Regions from separate parts of the Homo sapiens genome. Here region 1 is reported to be linked to region 2. Evidence: microRNA targets listed by miRTarBase, many of them from high-throughput screens and not tested one by one. Region 2 holds a microRNA gene; the other region holds the end of a gene's coding sequence.

Region 1 (3,000 bases), not on the chromosome of region 2:
CCTCAGGACATTCAGGGTACTCTGGGGTAATAGGTTGGGGTGAGGGTAGGGTGGGGCTTCTCATTCTCCTCACTTGAAGGGGAGAAGGCTCCCTGGCTTCAAAGCTTGGCTCTGTGACTCACTAGCTGATGGGCAAGCTACTTAATCTCTCTGTGCCCCATCTGTGAAATGGAAATACTAACACTACCTACCTTATAGGTAGTTGTAGCTATGTAGTTAACATCTCCTAGTTGTTACTTCTCGGAGCAGTGCCTGGTGCATGGTAAGCACTGTGTGAAGGTCTAGGGTTCTAATCTTTCTGCCCTTTGCATGCCCTGGTGGAAGAACCGACTCTGTGTTTTAAACCACTCCTCCCAAGCCCCCACCCCAACTCTGAATGCCAGCTGGTTCAACCCTGTGGGCACTTCTGACCTTATATCCCAAACAATAAACCTGCCTTCTCACTCCTTCATCTGGGAATTCTTCTAACCTAGAGGTTTTATCCTGGCTTGAGCCAAGGAGGCTAAGACAAGCTACTTTCAGGGGTGCCCCTTGGAATCTCGGGACATGACCCTGCCTGATTCATATCCCCCTAACCCCCAAATCCTCTAGTTGACTCTAACACCTTAGTCTCATTAATGAGAAAAAAGAAGCCCAAAGAGGACAAGCACCCTAACCCAGGTCACACCTTAATGGCAGAGCTATGCTGATTTAAGAAAAAGTGTCCTATATACAGAAAAAGCTGCTTTCACGAAACCGTCCCTCCATTCCTATGGAAATGCCCCCATCTGCAAGCTGCCTCCTGGTGTCTGTGTGTGCACAGAGCCAGAAGCTCCTCGAGGGCAGGGATGGTGACTCATTCATCCTTGCATCCCCCACACTGGGCCCAGTGCCTGGCACAAGAAGGTGCCCAAACTCTGAATAACATGTGTGTTTGCATCTGGACACAAGCCAGAAATGGGCAAGGATGGGAAACAAGCCAGAAATGGGCAAGGATGGGAAACCAGGAGGCAGGAAAGACTGGTTTTGCTTTTCCAGGATTGCAGAGAGTGGAGGCACAAGCACTCCCCCAGAGAGAAGGCCCCTGCTCTCTGAGGGTGAGAGTTGCTACTTCTGGGTGGAGGAAGGGTGTTCTGCTGGTATCTGTACCCCAGCACTGGGTGGAAGATTTGAGGGGAGACTGGGAAGCTGGAGACCTCCCTCCCAAACTCTGGACTGTGAAACTCAAATGTGTATTTTTCACATGCCTGATCTTTCTCCCAATCCCTCTGTTCTTCCAGTGACTTGGGCCAAAAGCCTGGGACTCATCCTTGGCTCCTCTTTCAAAATACACCTAGAAATTAATTCCTTCACATCTCATCAACTGCTGTGACACTGGACTGAGTGGTCAGTGCAGTAGACCTATGCTTTGGCCCCCTACAAGCTATTGTCAACACAGAAGCCAGGGTGACCCCACTGAAATGCAAGTTACCCATCACTCTCCTATTCAGAACTCTCCAATGCTCTCTCCATCTCCCATTTCAGAGAAGAGACCAAAGTCCACGCAGTGGCCTTCAAGGCCCCACACCAGGTGGCCCTCCTCACTCTCCCAGCAACCCAGTCTCTTGCTGTTCCTACTCCACTCTGCAGCCCCACCTTGCAGCCTCCATACTGACTGTTCCCTCAGAGGCGGGGGCATGGCTGCTTCCCTCACCTTCTATGCTCCAATTCACTTCCTCAGTGAGATCTACACTGACCATGTGGTTTAACTGTAGCCAACAATCTCGACATACTAGATCATATTCTTTGATCACACGTCATTGTTTATTGTCTGTCTCCACCTTCTCAATCTTGCTCACTGCTGAACCCCAAGTACCTAACACAGTAGCTGGCACACAATACTGCTGAATAAATGGAGGAACATGGGCAGGGAGGGGCGGTCAGAGGGCAGCAGGGTGCTGAGCTGGAAAGGCCCGAAAGGAGCCTTCACCTCTGCTCTGTGAAGAAGCCGAGGCTGCAAGAGCCACAGCACTGGGGGAAACCATTCTGAAGGTTGACTTTTGATGTCCTGGGGAATCTCCCCCCATTCTTTCTGCAGGAAGAACTTTGCTCAGGGGAACACGTGGGCTGGAAGAGGCGTGGCTGACTGTGTCTTCAGCTCCTAGGCAGGACCCAGCCCAGCAGAAAAGGTAACAACGACCACTCATCATGACCCGTGTGGGGCAGGCAGGGCCCGGGATCTCAGTGCTGTACCATCACCCTCCTCAGCTTTCATCCCATCCTGCTTTGTTTCTTAGTAAAGTTCCCTTTGAAAGATCCTGTCCTTCCTCTCTTCACTGAGCTATGGGGAAAGACAGGGGTGCAGGGGTCAAGTGTCTAAAGGCTACCAGCCCTCCTGGAAGAACTGGGGAGGAGAGAGCCGGGGGTCTGGGAGCAGGCCCCGCGGGCGGCTGCAGCTCTTCTGGGTAGAGCCTGTTCTGCCCCCAACCTCCCTCAGCCTGAGCTTGCCACCTGTTCACCCCAGGGTTCTCTGGCCAACAGGACTGCCAATGTAGACCCGGAGGCGCAGGCCCAGGGCTCGCCTCACCCGCCCGGAGTGGCTCCCTCACTCCTGCCCCTGGTGGCCCTGCCACAGGGAAATGGCCAGGCCCATTTCTGCCGGGGTGACGGCAGCTCTGCGCCTGGCCCGAGGAGCAGGGCGAGGAGCAGGTTGAGCCGGGCGCAGCGGGTCCAAGGCACCAGTGAGGGTCCGGCCCACGGAGGCCGGAGGAGGCGGCGGGTCCGTCTGGTTCCCTCCCAACCCCCGTCCCCGCGCCCCGGCCGCCCCCGGTTACCTGTGCGAGTCCTGGTCTCCCCCGGGGGACGCTCCCGCCGGCGCTCAGTACGGGCGATTGGCGTCTTTGGGCCGCTTCAGCTGCACCTTGAGCCTCTTCATGCCGATCTGGAAGCCGTTCATGGCCTGGATGGCGGTCTGCGCGCTGGCCGGGTTGTCGAAGCTCACGAAGCCTGGCGAGACACGAGGGACGAGGGCCTGGGTTTCCA
Region 2 (8,268 bases):
GACCCGCCACCATGCCTGGCTAATTTTTGTTTTGTTTTGTTTTGAGACGGAGTCTCACACTGTCGCCCAGCTGGAGTCCAGTGGCGCGATCTTGGCTCACTCCAACCTCCGCCTCCCAGGTTCAAGCGATTCTCCTGCCTCAGCCTCCGGAGTTGCTGAGATTACAGGTGCACGCCACCACGCCTGGCTAATTTTTGTAATTTTTAGTAGAGACAGGGTTTCACCGTATTGATCAGGCGGGTCGCGAACTCCTGACCTCAGGTGATCCGCCCGCCTCGGCCTCCCAAAATTCTGGGATTACAGGCGTGAGCCACGGGGCCCGGCCTAATTTTTGTATTTTTAGTAGAGACGGGGGTTTCACCATGTTGGCAGGGCTGGTCTCGAACTCCTGACTTCAAGTTATCGGCCCGCTTTGGCTTCCCAAAGTGCTGGGATTACAGGTGCGAGCCACTGCGCCCAGCCTTTATCCTTTATTTTGGAGCCAGGCTGACCGGGTTGGAATTCCTGCTCTTCAGGGCCATTCAACCTTTCTAGGCCTCAGTTTTGTCATCTGCAAGATGGGCTACCAGCATTTCGGCAGGGTTACAGGGAGAAGCAGTGGGCCCCAGAGACACTGAAGCCAGGCTGAGAAGACCGTGACCGCGGATGCCACCCACAAGCCTCCAAGGCCTCATTCCTAAGCTAATTTCACTTCCATTTCCTCAATGATGCAGTTACCCAAGAAGCAGAGGCTCTTGGGGACTCTGGGCTCCCTGCTGGTGCAAATGCCGATACCAGGAGGGGTTCTGGAGGGAGGGCCCACGGCTGTCTTTGTCTCCCGCGAGGCAACTCTGACTCAGGCTCCAGCTGCCCGTGGGAGGGAGGGGGCGCCCGGGCTCCTGAGGTCGCCAGGGAGCGGCGGGACTGGGAGGCTCCAAAGCCCTCAGTGTACGTGCGAATCCGGAGCGGACACCGAGACCTTAGCGCGGGAACCAAGAGAGGACAGAGCTCCACGGAGGCCACAGCGCGTGCACGGGGACAGGTGCGCCCTCCCCGGCAGCCCCCCTGCTCCTCGGTCACAGTTCTGTGCGGAGGCGTCTTGCGCCCTCCCCCCTGAGCCTCGCCCTTGAGTCGGGGCCGTGGGCCGCATCCAGGCCCCCAGGGCTCGGGATGCGCGTGAGGACCCGGACTCCCGAGGGCGCAGAGGTCGGGAGCCCGAAGCAGGCGCCCTTGGCCTTGGTCCCGCCCCTTATCCGGTCCCAAGCTTTTTCCTCGCCCCTTGGCCTTGACTCCACCCCTTAGGCATGCCGCTGGCCCCGCCCCTTTCCGGCCACCTTGAGGCTTGGGGGTCCCTCAGCCCCGCCTCTCTTCTTGACCCCGCCCCTTGGCAGCACCCCCTACCCCCGCCCCACGTCCAAATCTCCCGGGGCCGGTGGTGGCCGGGGCTGACGGCGGAAGCCGCGCAGAGACTCGCTTGCCCCGAAGTCGCTGGATTCGGGCCTGGATCCCAGATTATCCGCAGCCTAGGGGAGTGGAGAGATGCCCAAGGTTCCTCTGGGTCCCGGGACCCCAGTAGCGTCCCTCCCCCCGTCCCCCACGCCAACCACTGAGCGCCCTTCGGAGTCCCGGGAGGAAAGCGTAGGGGCGGGGAACTCTGGCATCTCTCTCCTCCCGGTTGCTCCCCGACTCTGCCCCGCTATTCCGCTATTTGGGGCAGTCGTTTCTACCGCACCCCCATTCTCTCCCCACCCTCGGGTCATGAGGGCAGGACCAGGCCTGCTCACACCTCCCTGCTGGGGGCGTTCCCTGGCTCTAGCAGGGGTCCCTCTGTCCCTACATGCCACAGGACCTCTTCAATCTCCAAGGACAGCTAGGTGGGCCTCAAGAGCCCCATTTTGCAGATGGGAAGAGGGGCCCAGAGAGTTGAGGCCCAGTGAGATGCTACCAGCTTGCAGGGATAGTGCTGTGTTGAGCCATCCCTGCTGAAACGAAAGTGGGGGGTCAGGCCTTCCTCCCTGGCCTCACCAGCTGGGCCTCCACAACCCCTCCTGGAGCCCCCAGCCTCTGGCTACCAGGCAGGAAGTGAAAGGGGCCTGCAGGAAGCCCCAGGAGGAAGCGAGACTTCAGCCAGGCCTGCCCCCACCGGCCAGGGCCCTGGGGACCTGGTGGGAATCAGACCCTCCTTCAGGAAAAGCTGGCCCGAAACACAGGCTCAGAGAGAGGCCTTTTCCCTTCAGTTCCCACCCGCAAAACGGCGCTTCCAGAGTCTGTCTGGGATCCCTCTTATCAAAATGAGAGAACAGTTGGGGAGAAAATCTGAGTAGTGATGAAACCAGGGAGTGGGGCCTGGCATCAGTCCCCGAGTTCTCCGCTCCCAAGGAGGGGGTCCGGGCCAATGACATTCTGCTGGGCAGGCATGGCCGCCAAGCGCAGGAGCCCAGGGTTCGCCCAGCTCCACCACCCACCTGTTGTATCTTGGGCCGGATCCCATTACCTCACAGGGCCTCTCTTTTCCTATCTGCAAACTGGACCATATAATCCCTCCTCATGGATGTGAAATGGTCTAGATTTTCAGGAGAAAATTTGGACCAACAGGGACCTTTAAAAAGGTCAAGGCTGGGCCGGGCACGATGGCTCACGCCTGTAATCCCAGCACTTTGGGAGGCCGAGGTGGACGGATCATGAGGTCAGGAGATCGAGACCATCCTGGCTAATATGGTGAAACCCTGTCTCTACTAAAAATACAAAAAAATTAGCCAGGCGTGGTGGCGGGCGCCTGTAGTCCCAGCTACTCAGGAGGCTGAGGCAGGAGAATGGCGTGAACCCGGGAGGCAGAGTTTGCAGTGAGCCGAGATTGCACCACTGCACCCCAACCTGGGCGACAGAGCGAGACTCCGTCTCAAAAAAAAAAACAAAACAAAAAGGTCAAGGCTGGCTGGGCGCGGTGGCTCATGCCTGTAATCCCAGCACTTTGGGAGGCCAAGGCGGGCAGATCACCTGAGGTCGGGAGTTTGAGACCAGCCTGGCCAACATGGAGAAACCTCATCTCTACTAAAAGTACAAAATTAGCTGAGTGTGGTAGTGCATGCCTGTAATCCCAGCTACTCGGGAGGCTGAGGCAGGAGAATCGCTTGAACCTGGGAGGAGGAGCCTACGGTGAGCCGAGATTGCACCATTGCACTCCAGCCTGGGCAACAAGAGTGAAACTCCATCTCAAAAAAAAAAAAAAAAAGTCAAGGCCTTTGGCGCAACAACTGTGCTGGGAAACAGAGACTCCTGCACAGGCGCATGTGGCCTGTGCCGTCTTGGCCACAACAGCAAAAACCAAAGTATCCAAATGCCCAGGTGGAAAACCTTACCATGTTGAAAACTTTATTGTGGAGTCTCTAAAGAGAGAGAAACTTACCAAATATTAATATGATGGTCAAGACATGAATTTGTATGTATAGAATGATTACAATTATGTAGAAAAATACACCACACACTCGAGGCCTGGGGTTACTGGACACGGGTCATTTCTTCCCTGACTACATCATGGATTCCGGTCCAGAACTTCCAGATTGTCTACAAAATGCCTATCTTCATTTTTTTCACAAAAAAAAATTTAAACAAACACAAACACCCCACCCCCCTCCTCCAGGTGCTCTTATGAAGATCAAATGAGGTATTGATGTGACGGCTCTGGGTCTCAGTTTCCTCGTCTGTTAAATGCATATGAGAATTATCTAAGGTTCCTTCCTGCCCTTCTCTGGGGACCACAGGCCAGGAGGAGAACCTTGCATACAACCCCTCATTTTTCAGAAGAAAAAACTGAGAACTCAGGGGAAACTTCCTACCGGCTGGCGGGGCCAGCTGGGACAGAGAGATGCCCAAGGTTTGCATGTCTGAGCCCCAGAGGGGTTTCACCCACCCTCGGGGTTTTCACCTGCTGAGCTAACCCTGGCTGTAGCAAAAGATGGGGTGGGAGATGGGGGTGTCCAGGAGAAGATGGGGTGGGGGAGATGGGGTGGCCAGGAGAAGATGGGGTGGCCAGGAGAAGATGGGGTGGGAGATGGGGTGGCCAGGAGAAGATGGGGTGGGAGATGGGGTGTCAAGAGAAGATGGGGTGGGAGATGGGGTGGCCAGGAGAAGATGGGGTGGGAGCTGGGGTGGCCAGGAAAAGATGGGGTGGGGCAGATGGGGTGGCCAGGAGCAGCTCAGACTCCCCCAACTCCAGATGGAAGGGGAGTGGATGGCTGGGCCCATGTGGGCCTGACCCCACCAAACCTCTCCCACACCTACTGCTTGTCACTTGACCTCACCCTGTCACCTGGCTCCCTGGGGGCAGGGGCATCTGAGATGGGTTCATGGAGCAAATAGCCAGGCAGAGACCTGGATGTGAGTGGCCACTGTCTTCCAAGCTGGGCACACAACAGGTCCTTGGGACAGGAAGCACTGAGTCCAGAGGCCTGGCAAGGGACAGGAGGGGCAGGAGAAGCAGGGGTCTACAGGTGGCTCTGGTGGCAGCTCAGGGGGAGGCAGGCAGAAAACATCTGATGCACAGAACAGAACATGCCCAGGGCCCAAGAGTGGGAAAACAGCACCCAGAACTCCACCTTCTGACTCCTAGTCCAGTGCTCCCTTCCAAAGATGCTAAGCTGCAACAAGTTCCAAGGAAGCTGCCCAGGGCGAAGTCCAGGTCAGGAGGTTCTGACCCTGTGCAGGAGGGCAGGTAGGAGGCGGCTGACTGAGTGCACAGTGTCGTCCAGGAGTGGAAAGAGATGGTCTTGTCCCCAGACCCCAGAGCAAGGAACACCATTGTAAGAGGAGGGAGCAGCTTCCACTGTGACGGTGGGTGACCAGGGGGCTGGCACAGGATGGCCAAATAAGCCCAGCACTGGGGGGCCAGTGCTTCAGGGGAACAAGCCAGAGAGAGAAGGGAGTTCAAGGGACCTCATGTCCACCTGGTTCAAGGTCACACGCCTGCCCTGGCCTCTACACAAAGGAGCCTCCTGTAGGTCCCAGCCCTTCCATGTTTATGGCTAAATGTGCTGTGTCTTGGAGCAGCTGGAACCCCAGGTGGACCCTGAGAGAGCTACCTGCCAGCATGTTCCTTCAGCTCGAGTTTGGAGTCCAGCCCTGGAGGCTGCGCACCTCCTCCCAAATGCAGGCTTGTGGCTCTGGAAGCTGCCACTGGGGTCAAAATGGCATCTTAGGTTCTGGCAGATTGGGCCAATCTCAGGGTTGACCCTGGGGTACAGATACCTGAGAATCAGCAAAATCCAGCTCAATCTTTTCTCCTTTGTTATTTCTTAAAATAATCTTGTACTAAATCCCAAAGCAAGCGAACCCATGAATTGATTATTCACTGCTGCCATTTGCATCAGTTTAAAAGCAGGACGGCTCTGAGGGCAGGTATTAAAGAAATAGAGGCCAGGCCCGGCGCCTCCTGCCTATAATCCCAGCCCTTCGGGGAGGACTGCCTGAGGCCAGGAGTTTGAGACTGGCCTGGGCAACATACCGAGACCCTGTCTTTAAAAAAAAAAAAAGGCCAGCCACGGTGGCTCACGCCTGTAATCCTAGCACTTTGGGAGGCTGAGGCGGGCGGATCACGAGGTCAGGAGATCGAGACCATCCTGGCTAATACGGTGACACCCCGTCTCTACTAAAAATACAAAAAAAATTAGCCGGGCGTGATGGCGGGCGCCTATAGTCCCAGCTACTCAGGAGGCTCAGGCAGGAGAATGGTGTGAACCCAGGAGGCGGAGCTTGAAGTGAGCCGAAATTGCGTCACTGCACTCCAGCCTAGGCGACAGAGCGAGACTCTGTCTCAAAAAAAAAAAAAAAAAAAAAATTAGCTGGGCAAGGTGGAGCACCTGTAGTCCCACCTACTCAGGAGGCTGAAGCAGAAAGATTGCTTGAGCCCAGGCTGCAATTAGCTGGGGACCCATCGTTGCACTCCAGCCTGCGTGATACAGCAAGACCCTGTCTCAAAAAAAACCAAAACACAAAACAAGGCCGGGCATGGTGGCTCATGCCTGTAATCCCAGCACTTTGGGAGGCCGAGCAGGGCGGATCACGAGGTCAGGAGATCGAGACCATCCTGGCCAACATGGTGAAATCCCGTCTCTACTAAAAATACAAAAATTAGCTGGCTGTGGTGGTGCGTGCCTGTAATCCCAGCTATTCGGGAGGCTGAGGCAGGAGAATCACTTGAACCAAGGAGTCGGAGGTTACAGTGAGGCGAGATCGCGCCACTGTACTCCAGCCTGGCGACAGAGCAAGACTCGTCTCAAAAAAAAAAAAAAAAAAAAAAAAAAAAAATCAAACAAACACAAAAAACCACCCAACTACAAATTAGGCATCCTCCCACTTGGTCTTTTTTCAGATTCATTTTGGCTTAATGGTGCCTTCCCCATTTTAAAAGCGGTCTTTTACTCATAGTGCCCCAGCCTTTTGAAGGCACAGGAACAGGAGCTGGGCTACCACCTTCAAGGGCTGTCAAAGATGGTGAGGTCTGAAGCCAAAGGCAAGCACACCAAACTCCATGGGGGCTGAATGCTGTGGTCTGTAGTGTCTGTGCTTCTGCAGAGTTAGCCTGGTCCCAGAAAGAGGGCATGTGCATGCTGGAGTGAAGAGCTGAATTTGATTTCCAAGCCCCTGGCTGGGGGTCCAGAGGGAGGGCAGGGGCCACCTCCTGCCGGCTCCCTGCTATTGTTGCTCAGGGCCGGCCGTCTTGGTGGTCACCAGTTCAGTGGAGCCCAGCTCTGTGGCTGGCACAGGGACACTGTGGCCAGGTGGGGTGGTTCCTGGGTCTTCCCCAGGAGGAGGCCAGGCAGGAGCTGTGGCATCAGAGATTCCCGGAGACAGAATGATGACCTTGTCCAGGGGCTCTGGGGCTGCAGGCAGAGGGGGTAGAGGCTCCGTACTCAGTCACAGCCTTCCCTCCCTCCCCTAGAAGACTCCTCTGGAGGGGCAGTCCTCCGTCAAATGAAGCCCAATGCAGGGTGGGGAGGGGTGGCACCTGGCTGACCCTGAGTCCAGAGGCCTGGCCAGTGGGGAGCTGGCAGGGCAGGGAGTTGGGGAGCTGGGGCTCAGTCTGGCAAACTCTTCAGGGATTTATGGGGGAACCAAGCTCCGTTAGACTCCCAAAGGGCAGGACAGACTCCTCCCTCAGACGGGGCCCCCTTCCTGCAACCTGTCTCTTCCTCACACTGGGGTCTGTCAGGGCAGAGCTGTTCCTGGCTCCGACCAGGGTCTCAGGGGCAGGACTATGTCTCCCTCCCCAGCCTGAGCTCCTCAGCGCAAACTCTTTTCCACTCTGTCTCCGTTTCCCCTTAAAGCCCTTCTCTCCCCCTCAGGGGCCATGCATCTCCCCCTAGACCGTCCCGACACCCCAGCCCCTGCGCCCCGCTCAGACTGGTTCCCCTACACACGGAACTCACCGTCCTTGTCTCCGTCGGGGGCCTCTGCGGAGGACGCGCCGCGAAGCCGCCGCTGTCGCCGCCTCCAGCTCACCAGACCCACCAGGACCAGCGCCAGGACCAGTGCCAGGCCCAGCAGCGCGGGGGCGCCAAAGAGCAGCCCGGGCAGGGGCAGCGCCGCCTCGCCGGCCCCCGCGCCCACCGACTCCTGCGGCTGCAGCGCCGTCCTGGGCGCAGGGCTGCTGGCCCCGGCTGCTTCGGGAGGGGACAGGGAGGGAGGCCAGGGGGCCGAGGGGAGGGAGGAGCGGGGACGGGGAGGGGCGGAGGGGGGCGAGGCTGGCCGGGGAGGGGAGGGACAGCCGGGGGGCGGTGGACAAGGGGAGGGAGAGAGGCGGCGGTGAGGGCCACGCGGTGATCGCGGGCCCCTCCAGGCCCTGCCCACAGGGTCCTTTCAGCCCTCGGCGCCCCCGGGGGTCGGGGCTCTGCCTGCGCCCTGGCGATCGGGGCCCCGTTCTCCCCGCAGCTGCCGGCGCCGCGCGCCCCGTGGGTCCCCCTTACCCGGTTTCGGCCGCGGCGTGCGCAGGAGCCCGCAGGCCACGCAGTGGCGGACCAGCAGGTCGAAGCACTCGGCCGGGACGCAGGGCGTGGGGGCTGGCGCGTCCCTGCCCCGCAGGCTCCGGGGCCCTCGCCTCATGGTGCCGACGCCGCCGCACAAGCTGCGGGGACTGAGGCTGAGCTGGGCTCCGGGGCCCTCGGGGAGGAAGCGGGGGGCGGGGGGAGCACTCTGCCCTGCCCCGCCCCCGCCTGCTGGGTGGGACCGAGCTCGCCTGGGGCCCCCCTTTCTTTTCTTTTTTTTTTTTTGAGACGGAGTCTCGCTCTGTCGCCC

What was found. The annotated mature microRNA hsa-miR-378i reads ACUGGACUAGGAGUCAGAAGG and lies in region 2 at 4,574-4,594, opposite strand. An mRNA with a match to its seed (bases 2 to 7 or 8) in the 3' UTR can be bound and repressed. Matches are read on the target gene's strand: a 7mer-m8 pairs with bases 2 to 8, a 7mer-A1 pairs with bases 2 to 7 and ends in A, and an 8mer does both.
Region 1: miRTarBase lists CELF4 as a target of hsa-miR-378i. The part of its 3' UTR that is shown has no 7-base or 8-base seed match.

The regions. Positions count from the first base shown.
Region 1 is chr18:37,250,975-37,253,974 of GRCh38, forward strand. It overlaps CELF4 (CUGBP Elav-like family member 4), which reads right to left. Exons shown (of 13, transcript NM_020180.4): 12 at 2,793-2,964. The coding sequence ends at 2,837. Among named protein-coding and RNA genes, the nearest start is that of SNORA111, 210 kb to the right of the region's middle.
Region 2 is chr22:41,918,698-41,926,965 of GRCh38, forward strand. MIR378I (microRNA 378i) reads right to left here and starts at 4,600; the gene lies at 4,525-4,600. TNFRSF13C (TNF receptor superfamily member 13C) reads right to left here and starts at 8,109. Exons shown (of 3, transcript NM_052945.4): 1 at 7,941-8,109; 2 at 7,404-7,634; 3 at 3,335-6,857. The coding sequence starts at 8,076. The coding sequence ends at 6,670. RefSeq lists enhancers at 357-860, 1,813-1,892, 1,973-2,042, 3,573-3,622, 6,336-6,837 and 1 more and silencers at 903-1,372, 3,053-3,102, 7,430-8,169.